2 separate regions of the Homo sapiens genome follow, and region 1 is linked to region 2. Evidence: fine-mapped expression QTL. Tissue or cell type: transverse colon. Region 2 holds a variant in brackets; the other region holds the start of a gene. All regions are shown on one strand. Distances are from middle to middle.

Region 1 (8,108 bases), 620 kb before region 2:
GGGCACAGTGGTTCATGCCTGTAATCCCAGCACTTTGGGAGGCAGAGGTGGGTGGATCACTTGTCTTCAGCTGTTCGAGACCAGCCTGGCCAACGTGGCAAAACCCCATCCCTACTAAAAATATAGAAATTAGCCAGGCATGATGACCCACACCTGTAGTCCCAGCTACTCAGGAGGCTGGGGCAGGAGAATCGCTTGATCCTGGGAGGTAGAGGTTGCAGTGAGCCACTTGCACACCAGCCTGGGTGACAGAGTGAGACTCTGTCTCAAAAAAAAGAAAAGAGAAAATTTTCATCCAGTCTTTGGCTAGAAGTCACAGGAAAAAAAAAAAAAACACAGAAACTTTTCATTTGGTCTGGGTGCAGTAGCTCATGCCTATAATCCCAGCACTTTGGGAGGCTGAAATAAGAGGACTGCTTGAGCCTAGGAGTTCAAGATCGGCCTGGGCAACATAATGAGACAATGAAACCTCATCTTAAAAAAAAAAAAAAAAAGAAAAAAGAAAGAAAGAAAAAGAAAAGAAAAATTTCATTAAATTCTGGTAAGAAAAAAAAAAACCTTTATAAAGAAAAGGGAAAAATCTTTAAAAAACACAACAAATAATAAAAAAAATAACTCTGGAGAGCTTTGAGATTGTCATTTGTACCTAGCTGTGAGTTATCGCAGCTGCCTTTAACTATTTTCTGAGACCAAATAAATTGAGTAAATGGTTTTTAACTAGAGAAAAAATAAAAATTTTGAAGAAGCACTTTAGAAGGCCAAGAATGCCAAAGATAGATATTATTTCAAATTTTTTGTGTGTAGTTTTCATTTTATAGAGGGCAGAGGAAAAAAAATCATGGCTCCCTGGTCCCAGGAGTGAGAACTTCATCTAATAGTACCAAAATTGCAATTTGGATATATTATAGCAAAAACAAGCTTTAGCTTATTACCAGGCACCTAGAATTGTAATCTAACAAGTGTTTTTAAAATGTATTTGTGGCATTCAGATATGTAAGTTGAAGACTATTCATATATATCAGTAAATCTCATTTATTTTGGGCTAAACACTCAGAAAAAAAGGAAGGAATTTAAGTGTATGTATGCTGCTAAAACAGATCTAATGTACAGTGTAGTATACTGAGGAAGAAAATGAGATCAGGAAGAATGGAGTGTGAGTTATTGTAAATTATCTGTGGACAGTGGACTGGTTCTACTCATTGAAAGACATTATTAAGTTTATTTACAAACATATTCCAAACAAAACATATAAAGCTTCATATGTATAAGTTTAAAGTCAAAAGATAGAACCGAACATATACCAAAACTAAATCCTAATCCTGGTTCACGTTGTCGATTGGCTTTTGTATGCTGTGATCTCCAATGAAAACGAGAAATACTTCTCAGGACCTGTAAAGAACACTTTTATTAAAATAAATTTGATAAGTTAAACATTAATCAGATAAGAGACTACTGATAATCATAAGTGAGTACAGCAACTGGTTTGACCATACTCATAGTTTTTAAAGTCATCACTATTTAAATGCCTTCAATCATAATTTAAATAAGCCAATTATCAGTTATATAAATTCCTATTACAGAGGAGATGTTTTTAAAAAGTAATGAAAATAAAGTCAGTGGTATTTATACTACTGAAGTGGAGGGTTTAGGACAAACAACAGTCAAGGGTAGTAGTAGATGTAGGACCACTATTCTGGGTATCTTACAAGCTCCTAGGACATTAATGGTTGGAGAGTTGGGGTGGGGAGAACGATAGGCTGGAAGTGAACATACTGTGTTCAAGAGTTGCCTAGTCCATCAACTTTGATACCCTGTCACTGTGAGCCTCCCATGCATGCCTCTGGAAACCTTCCCCTCAGAGGATCTCATTTTTTAGGATACCCCACTCTAACAAAACAAATTAGCATAAAACCATGTTCTGTATTTTCTGCTGTCTACAGGGATTCTTACAATGTTCTGAGCAAGGAGTCACCAAACCAGTGCAGCCACATCATGCTGTCTATTGCCGCTTTCACAGCAGATCTAAGTAGTTACCACAGAGACCATCTGGTTCACAAAGCCAAAAACATGTACTATCCGTTCCTTTACAAACACGTTTGCCATCCCTCTTCTAAACTACTAATACACTACTTGTCTTAGGATCTGAAATATAGTCATATTTCTTCAAAGGAACATATAAAGAAACAAACAATCAAATATACATATATTATTGTTTTGCAACCCATTTTTATATTCATGACAGTTTAATGGATACAAAAGTAAAAATTTGCATTTATTAAAGCTGCCAAACTGGGAACCACAATGGTGTTCTTGAGTAAAGGTTTCAGGACAGTCAAAATTACACAATTTTCACTGTAAAAGATTTTAATTGAACTATCCAGCAATTTTAACAAGCTTAGATACTAAGAGAAAAGAGCAGCTGAAGAATATACTAAAGTTTCTTTATTTAAATTCTTATGTTTTTCAAAATCCGTAAAAAGAAACTGTCTTTGTAGATGACAATTTCAACTTATAAAAGACGAATTCCTACATGTAAGGTGACAATATAATTAAGAGTGTCAAATATTTGTAATTGAAACAGTGCTTTCCAAATAACATACCTCATACTACAGTAATAAAAACATACAGAGTATGAAAACTCGCATTTTCTTTGCATCTTCATTAATTTTATTTTGAAAGTGAAACAGTGCCAGGTGGGGTGGCTCATGCGTGTAATCCCAGCACTTTGGGAGGCTGAGGTGGGCGGATCACGAGGTCAGGGGTTTGAGACCAGCCTGACCAACATGGTGAAACCCCATTTCTACTAAAAATACAAAAATTAGCCAGGTGTGGTGGCACGCACCTGTAGTCCCAGCTACTCGGGACGCTGAGGCAGGAGAATCGCTTGAACCCGGAAGGCGGAGGTTGCAGTGAGCCTAGACTGCACCATTGCATTCCAGCCTGGGTGACAGAGCAAGACTCCGTCTCAAAAAAAAAAAAAAAAAAAAAAGTGAAACAGTTTCTCTGGTGCTTATTGTCCAGCAGTCACAGACCAAATCTACTCTGATTTACAGTCGCGTTACACAGGTTAATTCACTGAATCCCAGGTCAAGTCTAGGATTAAGCCATTACTTTTATTCCACTTTCGCATGTGAAGAAACGAAGGCTCAGAAAGTCAACTAAATTAGGCAAAGTCACTCTACTATTAGTGCAACCAGGATTCTAACATTTACTATCAAGAGCGCATGCTATTAACCACCTTGCTATACTGATCTTTCTGTTAGTATCCTAATTGGTCACTAGGTTCCATAACAAAGGAAAACATTCCACAAAAATCAGAACAAAAAACCTGACTCTATTATAAATGCGTTTTTAAATACCATGCACAAAAGTCAGAACTCAAACCAGGTTAAATGGTCTACTGAGGGACTTTTTTTTTTTTTTGACAGAGTCTCCCTCTGTCACCCAGGCTAGAGTGCGGTGGAGAGATCTCCGCTCACTGCAGACTCAGCCTCCTGGGATTACAGGCATATGCTACCATGCCCAGCTAATTTTTCCTATTTTTAGTAAAGACAGGGTTTCCCTGCTTTGGCCAGGCTGGTCTCGAACTCCTGGCCTTAAGTGATCAACCCGCCGAGGCCTCCCAAGGTGCTAGGATCACAACCGTGAGCCGCCGCACCTGGCCAACCGAGGGAATTTAAATAGGGAAAAAGTCACTTCACATGTGACTGTTCAGGAAAATATGTTACATAGAACAAAGTGCAAAGGTTGCTATTACCAGAATACAATGCCCATCAACCTGTTAATTACATAACAAAGTTAGCCAGTTAATTAGAGAGGTGGTTTGCAAATAGAAAACAGAAACAGCACGGGATCTGGAGTTATAATTGCTGAATGTGAATCTAGGTTCCACAACCATATTTGTGGCCGTAGACAGGTTTACAAACTGCTTATAGCTTCCGTTCAAAACCAAAAAATGGGACTAATCTCACTGCGTATTTTCGGACGATTAAAGTACGATAATGTTTTGAAAGCCTAATGCTATATAACTATTGGTTTTATTACTTCGGGCTCTCTGTCTAGAACAATGAAATTCCAAATATCGAAACAGCACCACTAGAATTGAACACTTTTGTGCATTTCTTGGGAATATAAGAGTGTCAGTTTTATGGGTTAAAGAAGAGAAAAAGGGTGTAAGTTTTCTATATCAGGTTTTTTTTAGATCCTTCCTTGGAGGTTGAGAAATCTGCTTTTCTGGTGTAGGAGTTAAAAATAGCTGAAATCTCCCAATTTCTGCCTTCACTGCACATTAACTTGCATAACACCAGCAAAACATGGGCAGCAATTCTTTAGGATTATTCTAAAACCGCAGCTTTTTTGGTCCAAGACATAACTTTAACTTAATTTTAAGTGACATCTAAATGGCAGTGGTGTGAACATATCAAGAATATTTAAGATACCAAAATTCATCTAGTGACAAACTTATTTAGAATCTATTAAGATCCAATACTAGAATATACACACAAGTTCACATAAAATTCTGCAGGTTTTTTTTTTACTTTTTTTTTTCCCGTAAGCAACGTGGAAACGTTACAACGAAAAGCTTATTAAACATTAAGTATTTCAAGGAGTAGCTGCTCCATTTTTCTTTTTCCCGTGGTTCTGACACAGAGACGGGGTCACTTTGGAAAAAGGTGGGATTCCCGCGGTAAATATTTGGAGGGTTTACCAGAGAAAGAAAAACGATATTCTAAAGAGAGGATGCCGGCTATAACGGGGTCGCCTGACGGGAGGATACGGAAAATGAAACGCTAGGCTACGTTCCGTCCGGTGGTAGGAGGCGTGAAAGCAGGTTGGGGGCCCCTAGGCTGGCTCCTTCCTCAGCCCGACTTCCCACTCCTCCCGGCCGCACCTATTTTTGGCCCAGGGCCCCCTGCTCCGACACCACAATACCCATGTTCCAGCCCCACCGCACCGCTGGGCTCCCTCTCACCCTGCAGCATCGCCCGAACCCCGCTGCCATGTTGGCTCCCGTTCCGGCCACTCGGACAATAATACACGGGTCACGGCCTTGACATACTCCCCGAACGCGGGACTCCTCTGGTCCCGCCCACTGGAGCCCGTGGGCGGGATGGGGCGGGGCGGGAAGAGGCGGTTGGGCTGCGGAAGGACGGGGCGCTGCGCTAGGCGGGGTGGCAGCGGTCCCCGGCGCCGGGTAGCCAACGCATGCTCCGTGACCCTTGCGTGCGCCGTCGCTGCGACCTGGGGAGGGGTCGCATCCCCTCTCCGGGCAATCTCTGATAGTCCTGGTTTGGTTTTCTGCGTTTCCACCTCTGGCCCTCTCTGTGGGACGCCGAGGCTGACCGCAGCGCGGAAAGAGAGCCAGGGCGGGGGAGGGGGACGGCGGCGGGGCTGGGAGGGCCCGGTTGCGCTGAACGGTGGGGGGACTTGCGGCGCGGTGCAGGACGGGAACCTGGGTTAGAGGGCGTGGCTGGGGCCTGGAGGGAGAGCGGCCCCCGTGGTCAGCCTTCACCTTTACCCGGAGAGAACGGTCAAACCCAGATCGTGTCTGCTTGGCGGATTCAAAGTATTAGTACATTTTGCTCTCAAATGCCCTACCTAAAGCGAAAGCATACTTGTGTTTCCTTAAAATTTAAAAGAGAATTTAATTGTTTAGGTAAATTTGACCTTTCCGCGTATTCCCAAGGCTGTTTATGACTTGTCCGCTGATGTGGTGTCCTTGGATATGCGGGTGCAATCCGAGGCTGTCCAAAGCTCCTGGTTCAGCGAATGATGGAAGTGAATGTCTCCCTGAGGAATTCTACCTGGAGTCACTTTCTCTTCCAGTGAGACCCTGAGTTTTGAGATGGTAGCTTATACTAAATCTTATACTAACTTAACATTTTCTTTTGCCCAATAAAGGTCACCCATAAATTCATCTAATTTAGCTGTTAAAATTCTATATCCTGTTATTGTATTCCCCTACTTTGTCTTCTGGGAATTTATAGTGTGTTAGTCCTAGGTACAAGGCAGAATGTTAATTAAGCGCTATATTCAAAGTGAAAGTACCAGGAAAATTCGGAAAAGGGATAAAGAGCTGAGTTTGTCCTGGTATAGGCAAGAAAGCCTTCAAAGTGGTGGTGGTAAGTAAAACACAAAGCGGACTCTTAAAGATGATTAGGAATTGTCTATTCATGTCTCCTTTGTTCCAATTTCTTATTCTGAACATTTTAAACACAGAAAAGATGAACGAAAAGCACAAAATCACCCATATGCCTATTGTAACCCCTTCTTACTGTACACGTGGCTGGCAGAGAAGCGAAGATGGAGCCCTCATCTTAAACATGTCTAGTCGGTAGTTCCTGCCACCATTCACCCAAGCAAGCTACCCCCTTGTTTGTCTGTGCCTGCAGCTCGACTTCACAGGCTGCTCTTAGAAAAGGATTTGGGGCTGCTTTTCATTAAAAAGAAAAGCCTTACTGATGTTGGGAACGGGCGCTCAGTGTTGCAAAAATCAACACTGAGACAAAGGAGCTCTTAGCAAGGCTAGTTTACTTTCTGCAGAAAGGTTGCCGCTCGCTAGTAGTCTTGCCACGAGAGCACACACGCATAAAGGAGACAGGGTCATTTATAACCTGACACGTGCACCCTACTACCGTGTCCGGTTTCCATTGGCTGGAAGGGGACCTCTGTACTTGTCCTGATTGGCTAGCAACTTAGAACTTTCCAAAAGAGGCAAAGACAGAGGAGAACAAAGGAAGGAGGAAGCAACTTGTGGAATGCTGAGAAAGGTAAAAACACCTCCAGATAAGGAAGAAAACAGGCTATGGCCTAATGCTTCCTTGGACCAGTATAAGCATGCCAGGGCAAATATCTAGGCTAAAATGTGGCAGCTAAGAGCACAAAGTACATTGATTTCTTTATTACGGCCAACAGATATCAAAGAATGTTAGTGTGGCCAACTGCCACGGTTACTACTTGAGACCATCGTTACAGCAGTTACTACTGTTACTGCTTGAGACCATCATTGTGAGATCAAATGAAGGGACGAACGTAGAAATGATAACTTAAGACAAAAGGAACTGTTTTAAGGAAAGGGCCAGGGGAAGAAGAAGAGAGCTCCCTGCTTCTCGTGAGCAAAGGCAGCCACAGAGCTTCCACAGCCCTTCCTATTTTTTGGGTAACAGGAGCAGGGAGGAGGTGGTAACGATTGGTCAGCTGCTTAATTGATCACAGGTTCATATTGTTACTGACAGGCTTCAATTATGCCTAATCATAAGAAACATTTGTGCCTAGATCGTAACTACCCTCAGCAGTCCTCCTGGGTGGCATACGCAGTTTGTCAGTTCGCCAACGTTCTGCATTTATGAGAAACAGTTTGCTGCTTACTCATATAGCCTCCAGTGATATACTGAGTTGATCACGAACCTCATTGTTTCGGCCTCCAATATGTTAGCACAGTTCTTTGAATAAATTTTGCTTTTAAGAGAAGTTACTGTTTATTCCTAATTAGACGGAAAGGAAAGTCCATTTGAAGAGGAACCTCTACTTCACTTTTTACACTGAGGACTCCCATACTCGTACTATCGGCCTGAGTAATTTCTTCTCAATATCATTATCACCTAGATTCAAATATTTTTCCATATTTATTTATATATTTATATGTGTACCTATGTGTGTGTGTTTTGGTTGTTGGTTTTATTTTTCTCAGATCTGTAGGTTGTAGATAAGACACTTCAGTTCAGAATACTTTAGCTATATGTCTCCTACAAGGACATTTTCCTATATAACCATTTCCTATAAAACCTTTATCACATCAATGAAAATTAACAATTATTCGCTACTATTATTTAAGGTCCAGAGAATATTTACATTTCTCCAGTTGTCCAGTTGTCTCCAGAATACCTTTTGTAAATAGTTTGTTTTTGAACCAGGATCCTATGAATGATTGCCCATTGAAGTTGGGCTTTAACTTTCTTTGGCTTCTTTTAATCTAAAGCTTTTAATCTAATTCATTTTTCCCAATAATAACTGTCTTTTTAAACAAATTTAAGATACCAAGCAGTTGTCATGAAGAATGCCCTAATGCTGGATTGTCCGATTTTATTTATTTTGTACCTCTAGATTTT
Region 2 (8,108 bases):
AGGAGATTATATCCCGCACGTGGCTCAGAGGGTCCTAGGCCCATGGAGTCTCCCTGATTGCTAGCACAGCAGTCTGAGAACAAACTGCAAGGCGGCAGTGAGGCTGCGGGAGGGGCGCCCGCCATTGCCCAGGCTTGCTTAGGTAAACAAAGCAGCCCAGAAGCTCGAACTGGGTGGAGCCCACCATAGCTCAAGGAGGCCTGCCTTCCTCTGTAGGCTCCACCTCTGGGGGCAGGGCACAGACAAACAAAAAGACAGCAGTAACCTCTGCAGACTTAAATGTCCCTGTCTGACAGCTTTGAAGAGAGCAGTAGTTCCCCCAGCACGGAGCTGGAGATCTGAGAACGGGCAGACTGCCTCCTCAAATGGGTCCCTGACACTGACCCCTGAGCAGCCTAACTGGGAAGCCCCCCCAGCAGGGGCAGACTGACACCTCACATGGCAGGGTACTCCAACAGACCTGCAGCTGAGGGTCCTGTCTGTTAGAAGGAAAACTAACAAACAGAAAGGACATCCACACCAGAAACCCATCTGTACATCACCATCATCAAAGAACAAAAGTAGATTAAACCACAAAGATGGGGAAAAAACAGAGCAGAAAAACTTGAAACTCTAAAAAGCAGAGCACCTCTCCTCCTCCAAAGGAACGCAGTTCCTCACCAGCAATGGAACAAAGCTGGACGGAGAATGACTTTGATGAGCTGAGAGAAGAAGGCTTCAGACGACCAAATTACTCTGAGCTATGGGAGGACATTCAAACCAAAGGCATAGAAGTTGAAAACTTTGAAAAAAATTTAGAAGAATGTATAACTAGAATAACCAATACAGAGAAGTGCTTAAAGGAGCTGATGGAGCTGAAAACCAAGGCTCGAGAACTACATGAAGAATGCAGAAGCCTCAGGAGCCGATGCGATCAACTGGAAGAAAGGTATCAGTGATGGAAGATGAAATGAGTGAAATGAAGCAAGAAGGGAAGTTTAGAGAAAAAAGAATAAAAAGAAACGAGCAAAGCCACCAAGAAATATGGGACTATGTGAAAAGACCAAATCTACGTCTGATTGGTGTACCTGAAAGTGACGGGGAGAATGGAACCAAGTTGGAAAACACTCTGCAGGATATTATCCAGGAGAACTTCCCCAATCTAGCAAGGCAGGCCAACGTTCAGATTCAGGAAATACAGAGAACGCCACAAAGATACTCCTCGACAAAAGCAACTCCAAGACACATAATTGTCAGATTCACCAAAGTTGAAATGAAGGAAAAAATGTTAAGGGCAGCCAGAGAGAAAGGTCGGGTTACCCTCAAAGGGAAGCCCATCAAACTAACAGCGGATCTCTTGGCAGAAACGCTACAAGCCAGAAGAGAGTGGGGGCCAATATTCAACATTCTTAAAGAAAAGAATTTTCAACCCAGAATTTCATATCCAGCCAAACTATGCTTCATAAGTGAAGGAGAAATAAAATACTTTACAGACAAGCAAATGCTGAGAGATTTTTATGACCACCAGGCCTGCCCTAAAAGAGCTCCTGAAGGAAGCGCTAAACATGGAAAGGAACAACCGGTACGAGCCACTGCAAAATCATGCCAAAATGTAAAGACCATTGAGACTAGGAAGAAACTGCATCAACAAACGAGCAAAATAACCAGCTAACATCATAATGACAGGATCAAATTCACACATAACAATATTAACTTTAAATGTTAATGGACTAAATGCTCCAATTAAAAGACACAGACTGGCAAATTGGATAAAGAGTCAAGACCCATCAGTGTGCTGTATTCAGGAAACCCATCTCACGTGCAGAGACACACATAGGCTCAAAATAAAAGGATGGAGGAAGATCTACCAAGCAAATGGAAAACAAAAAAAGGCAGGGGTTGCAATCCTAGTCTCTGATAAAACAGACTTTAAACCAACAAAGATCAAAAGAGACAAAGAAGGCCATTACATAATGGTAAAGGGATCAATTCAACAAGAAGAGCTAACTATCCTAAATATATATGCACCCAATACAGGAGCACCCAGATTCATAAAGCAAGTCCTTAGTGACCTACAAAGAGACTTAGACTCCCACACAATAATAATGGGAGACTTTAACACCCCACTGTCAACATTAGACAGAACAACAAGACAGAATGTCAAAAAGGATACTCAGGAATTGAACTCAGCTCTGCACCAAGCGGACCTAATAGACATCTACAGAACTCTCCACCCCAAATCAACAGAATATACATTTTTTTCAGCACCACACCACACCTATTCCAAAATTGACCACATACTTGGAAGTAAAGCTGTCCTCAGCAAATGTAAAAGAACAGAAATTATAACAAACTATCTCTCAGACCACAGTGCAATCAAACTAGAACTCAGGATTAAGAATCTCACTCAAAACCGCTCAACTACATGGAAACTGAACAACCTGCTCCTGAATGACTACTGGGTACATAACAAAATGAAGGCAGAAATAAAGATGTTCTTTGAAACCAACGAAAACAAAGACACAACATACCAGAATCTCTGGGACACATTCAAAGCAGTGTGTAGAGGGAAATTTATAGCACTAAATGCCCACAAGAGAAAGCAGGAAAGATCTAAAATTGACACCCTAACATCACAATTAAATGAACTAGAAAAGCAAGAGCAAACACATTCAAAAGCTAGCAGAAGGCAAGAAATAACTAAAATCAGAGCAGAACTGAAGGAAATAGAGACACAAAAAACCCTTCAAAAAACTTAATGAATCCAGGAGCTGGTTTTTTGAAAGGATCAACAAAATTGATAGACCGCTAGCAAGACTAATAAAGAAAAAAAGAGAGAAGAATCAAATAGATGCAATAAAAATGATAAAGGGGATATCACCACCGATCCCACAGAAATACAAACTACCATCAGAGAATACTACAACCACCTCTACACAAATAAACGAGAAAATCTAGAAGAAATGGATAAATTCCTCGACACATACACTCTCCCAAGACTAAACCAGGAAGAAGTTGAATCTCTGAATAGACCAATAACAGACTCTGAAATTGTGGCAATAATCAATAGCTTACCAACCAAAAAGAGTCCAGGACCAGATGGATTCACAGCCGAATTCTACCAGAGGCACAAGGAGGAACTGGTACCATTCCTTCTGAAACTATTCCAATGAATAGAAAAAGAGGGAATCCTCCCTAACTCATTTTATGAGGCCAGCATCATCCTGATATCAAAGCCTGGCAGAGACACAACCAAAAAAGAGAATTTTAGACCAATATCCCTGATGAACATTGATGCAAAAATCCTCAATAAAATACTGGCAAACCAAATCCAGCAGCACATCAAAAAGCTTATCCACCATGATCAAGTGGGCTTCATCCCTGGGATGCAAGGCTGGTTCAATATACGCAAATCAATAAATGTAATCCAGCATATAAACAGAAGCAAAGACAAAAACCACATGATTATCTCAATAGATGCAGAAAAGGCCTTTGACAAAATTCAACAACACTTCATGCTAAAAACTCTCAATAAATTAGGTATTGATGGGACGTATTTCAAAATAATAAGAGCTATCTGTGACAAACCCACAGCCAATATCATACTGAATGGGCAAAAACTGGAAGCATTCCCTTTGAAAACTGGCACAAGACAGGGATGCCCTCTCTCACCACTCCTATTCAACATAGTGTTGGAAGTTCTGGCCAGGGCAATCAGGCAGGAGAAGGGAATAAAGGGTATTCAATTAGGAAAAGAGGAAGTCAAATTGTCCCTGTTTGCAGATGACATGATTGTATATCTAGAAAACCCCATTGTCTGAGCCCAAAATCTCCTTAAGCTGATAAGCACCTTCAGCAAAGTCTCAGGATACAAAATCAATGTACAAAAATCACAAGCATTCTTATACACCAACAAGAGACAAAGAGAGCCAAATCATGAGTGAACTCCCATTCACAATTGCTGCAAAGAGAATAAAATACCTAGGAATCCAACTTACAAGGGATGTGAAGGACCTCTTCAAGGAGAACTACAAACCACTGATCAACGAAATAAAAGAGGATACAAACAAATGGAAGAACATTCCATGCTCATGGGTAGGAAGATTCAATATCGTGAAAATGGCCATACTGCCCAAGGTAATTTACAGATTCAATGCCATCCCCATCAAGCTACCAATGACTTCCTTCACAGAATTGGAAAAAACTACTTTAAAGTTCATATGGAACCAAAAAAGAGCCCGCATCGCCAAGTCAAACCTAAGCCAAAAGAACAAAGCCAGAGGCATCACACTACCTGACTTCAAACTATACTACAAGGCTACAGTAACCAAAACAGCATGGTACTGGTACCAAAACAGAGATATAGATCAATGGAACAGAACAGAGCCCTCAGAAATAACGCCGCATATCTACAACTATCTGATCTTTGACAAACCTGACAAAAACAAGCAATGGGGAAAGGATTCCCTATTTAATAAA[G/T]GGTGCTGGGAAAACTGGCTAGCCATATGTAGAAAGCCAAAACTGGATCCCTTCCTTACACCTTATACAAAAATCAATTCAAGGTGGTATAAAGACTTAAACGTTAGACCTAAAACCATAAAAACCCTAGAAGAAAACCTAGGCAATACCATTCAGGACATAGGCATGGGCAAGGACTTCATGTCTAAAACACCAAAAGCAATGGCAACAAAAGCCAAAATTGACAAATGGTATCTAATTAAACTAAAGAGCTTCTGTACAGCAAAAGAAACTACCATCAGAGTGAACAGGCAACCTACAAAATGGGAGAAAATTTTCGCAACCTACTCATCTGACAAAGGGCTAATATCCAGAATCTACAATGAACTCAAACAAATTAACAAGAAAAAAACAAACAACCCCATCAAAAAGTGGGCGAAGGACATGAACAGACACTTCTCAAAAGAAGACATTTATGCAGCCAGAAAACACATGAAAAAATGCTCACCATCACTAGCCATCAGAGAAATGCAAATCGAAACCACAATGAGATACCATCTCACACCAGTTACAATGGCAATCATTAAAAAGTCAGGAAACAACAGGTGCTGGAGAGGATGTGGAGAAATAGGAACACTTTTACCCTGTTGGTGGGACTGTAAACTAGTTCAACCATTGTGGAAGTCAGTGTGGCGATTCCTTAGGGATCTAGAACTGGAAATACCATTTGACCCAGCCATCCCATTACTGGGTATATACCCAAAGGACTATAAATCATGCTGCTATAAAGACACATGCACACGTATGTTTATTGCAGCATTATTCACAATAGCAAAGACTTGGAACCAACCCAAATGTCCAACAATGATAGACTGGATTAAGAAAATGTGGCACATATACACCATGGAATACTATGCAGCCATAAAAAATGATGAATTCATGTCCTTTGTAGGGACATGGATGAAATTGGAAATCATCATTCTCAGTAAACTATCGCAAGAACAAAAAACCAAACACCGCATATTCTCACTCATAGGTGGGAGTTGAGCAATGAGAACACATGGACACAAGAAGGGGAACATCACACTCTGGGGACTGTTGTGGGGTGGGGGGAGGGGGGAGGGATAGCATTGGGAGATATACCTAATGCTAGATGACGAGTTAGTGGGTGCAGCGCACCAGCATGGCACATGTATACTTATGTAACTAACCTGCACATTATGCACATGTACCCTAAAACTTAAAGTAGAATAATAATTTTTTTAAAAAAGTAATAAAAATTGAAATGCTAGTTTATGTTTTAAAAGGCATTAGATTATAGTTTTATTCCTCATAACCAAATATGTATAAATAATCATAATTAAGTTTGATAATGTTATGCAGTAACATATTATATAATATTGTATATAATATTTTATAATGTTTAACATGAGATAATTATAAATGTAGTTAGCATTTATAATTGTTTGCTAATCATACTTATGTCTGTCTAATAGGATGTAATACTATATTATAATTAGTAAATAGAGCATTTATTAAGATTATGTTATTTTAAACAACTGGGCATTAAAATTTAGAATTAGAGTGTAGGCATTAATTTCATATGAATTCCTCTGTGTGAACACAAATAAGAAAATGAACATGTTCCAAAATGTTTAAAGCCAATGTCAAGGCCCCCCCCCAAAAAAAACCCCTAAAAATCTTGAGAAAGGCATTTTGAAATAGTTGATGTGTTCAATGAAACTAAAAAGACACTACAATGAAGAGCATAGGCTATTTTGGGTTTTGTGTTTGTTTGTTTTTTGCACTTTATAAGCTATGCCAACACTGGATATATTTTCACATTTTATAATGTGAAATAATGAGCTATGTTTATACAAAGTAAAAGTGCTTTAGAGTTGGAAACTTGACTTTTATTTTCTTAGCTGCATTCTATTTGGTTCATCAAAGACATGGTACCAGCTGTTTCATTATGTCCATATCATTAGGCACAAAGCCCTTGTATGTGAATCAAGGTAGATTTGTTTTATGTTTGACTTACTTTGAATGGAGAAAAAACCAAGAGTGCTCATGAGCTACTTAGATGGTGCAGAAATGCTTGAAAAGAAAGCCATACATGGATTGCTAGTTATTACAATTGTTTAAAAAAGTATAATTTTGAGCCAGAAACAGTTGTTATATGTGAACTGCTTATTTGATTAATTATAATAGTAGATATGATGACTTCAAGGCTTAATTTTTTGGACTACTAACTTTTTTTTTTTTTTTTTTTTTGCCATGAAGACAAACTAGAAAAATGTTTTGGGGCCAATTAAAAATCATTCTGTGTCATTTGTTCTAACTATAAATATGGTATATATACTTACTAAAAGTTAAAATATTAAACATACAAACAAAAACCACCCAAAATCTCACATGCAGGATGGGTTACATTTTTAAATGATAAAAGATTGTTTCTTCACTTTGTTGGATCCTGTAGAAAAAAACGTACATTTTTAAAAGGAAGAAAACAACTAATTTTGTTTATTTTTTTGTGGAGATGAGGTCTTACTCTGTTGCCCAGGCTCATCTCCAACTCCTGGACTCAAGTGATCCTCCAGCCTTGGACTCCCAAAGTGCTGAGATTACAGGCGTGAGCCACCATAACTAGCCTGGATTTCTTAAATGAATGTTTTTACTCAGAATTTGTTAACCCCTCAAAGCATCAAAATATAAAGGCATGAATGATAATTGTATTAGCTTTTTATAACTTACAAAATAATTTAAAGCTATATAACACAATTAAGTATTTAAAAGGCTTTGTGGAGCTAGAAAGACAATTTGTCATTTGAGTTTTGTTTAATCACGATAAATACATATATACATATATATATATACACATATATATACATATATATACATATGTATATATATGTGTGTATATATATATATATATATATATATATCTCGAGGCAGAGTCTCGCTCTGTTGCCCAGGACGGAGTGCAGTGATGCAATATCAGCTCACTGCAACTTCTGATTCTGGGGCTCAAATGATCCTCCCAACTCAGCCTCAGCCACGCCCCCATCCTTCCAGTAGCTGGGACTGCAGGTGCATGCTGCTATGCTGGGCTAATTTTTAAAACAGATGGGGGTCTCACTTTGTTGCCAGTGCTGGTCTCCAGCTCCTGGGCTTAAGCTATCTGCCTGCCTCAGGCGTCCAAAGTGCTGGGATTACAGGCGTGAGCCACCGCACCAAGCCCCTTTTATCATTTTGAGTGAATTAAAATGAAATAGTATTTTTTATGAAATCTATTTTCTATTATTAATGTAATGAAAGGAAGAGTTTTTGCCATATTGGTTTAATTTTTTCCACTTTAAAAAATATGTTCATTATATTATCACTAGTTTGCTTATTGTACTCGTTCATAATTAATGATGTCATAGGGGACCTGAAGTTGATTGTTTCTTATCTTCTGGAAATGTTTTTATACTCAATAGGCTGCAAAAACAAATTCCTACAGCAGTGTCTGAATCTGGAAGATCTCTGCATGTGCACATGATTTCCTATGTGAAAACAAAACAAAAAAATGTGAATTGTCATTATCATTTTATAATCATCTCTAGTCTTTAAAGTGACAGAGAGGTAATGTGTCTAATCTACCTTCAGAGAATCTTTATTAATTCAAACTC

What was found. PIP is the estimated chance that this variant, and not a neighbour inherited with it, causes the effect.
Region 1: it holds the start of ACADM, and the variant in region 2 is fine-mapped to the expression of ACADM in transverse colon (GTEx, PIP 0.96).

Annotation. Positions count from the first base shown.
Region 1 is chr1:75,721,682-75,729,789 of GRCh38, reverse strand. It overlaps ACADM (acyl-CoA dehydrogenase medium chain), which reads right to left and starts at 5,081. Exons shown (of 12, transcript NM_000016.6): 1 at 4,973-5,081; 2 at 1,302-1,389. The coding sequence starts at 5,002. It also overlaps a transcript of SLC44A5 not described here. RefSeq lists enhancers at 4,866-4,955, 5,606-5,695 and silencers at 5,086-5,135, 5,186-5,235.
Region 2 is chr1:75,104,453-75,112,560 of GRCh38, reverse strand. No RefSeq gene overlaps it. Among named protein-coding and RNA genes, the nearest start is that of LHX8-AS1, 24 kb to the left of the region's middle. The variant G/T (reference allele first, on the strand shown) is at 4,459.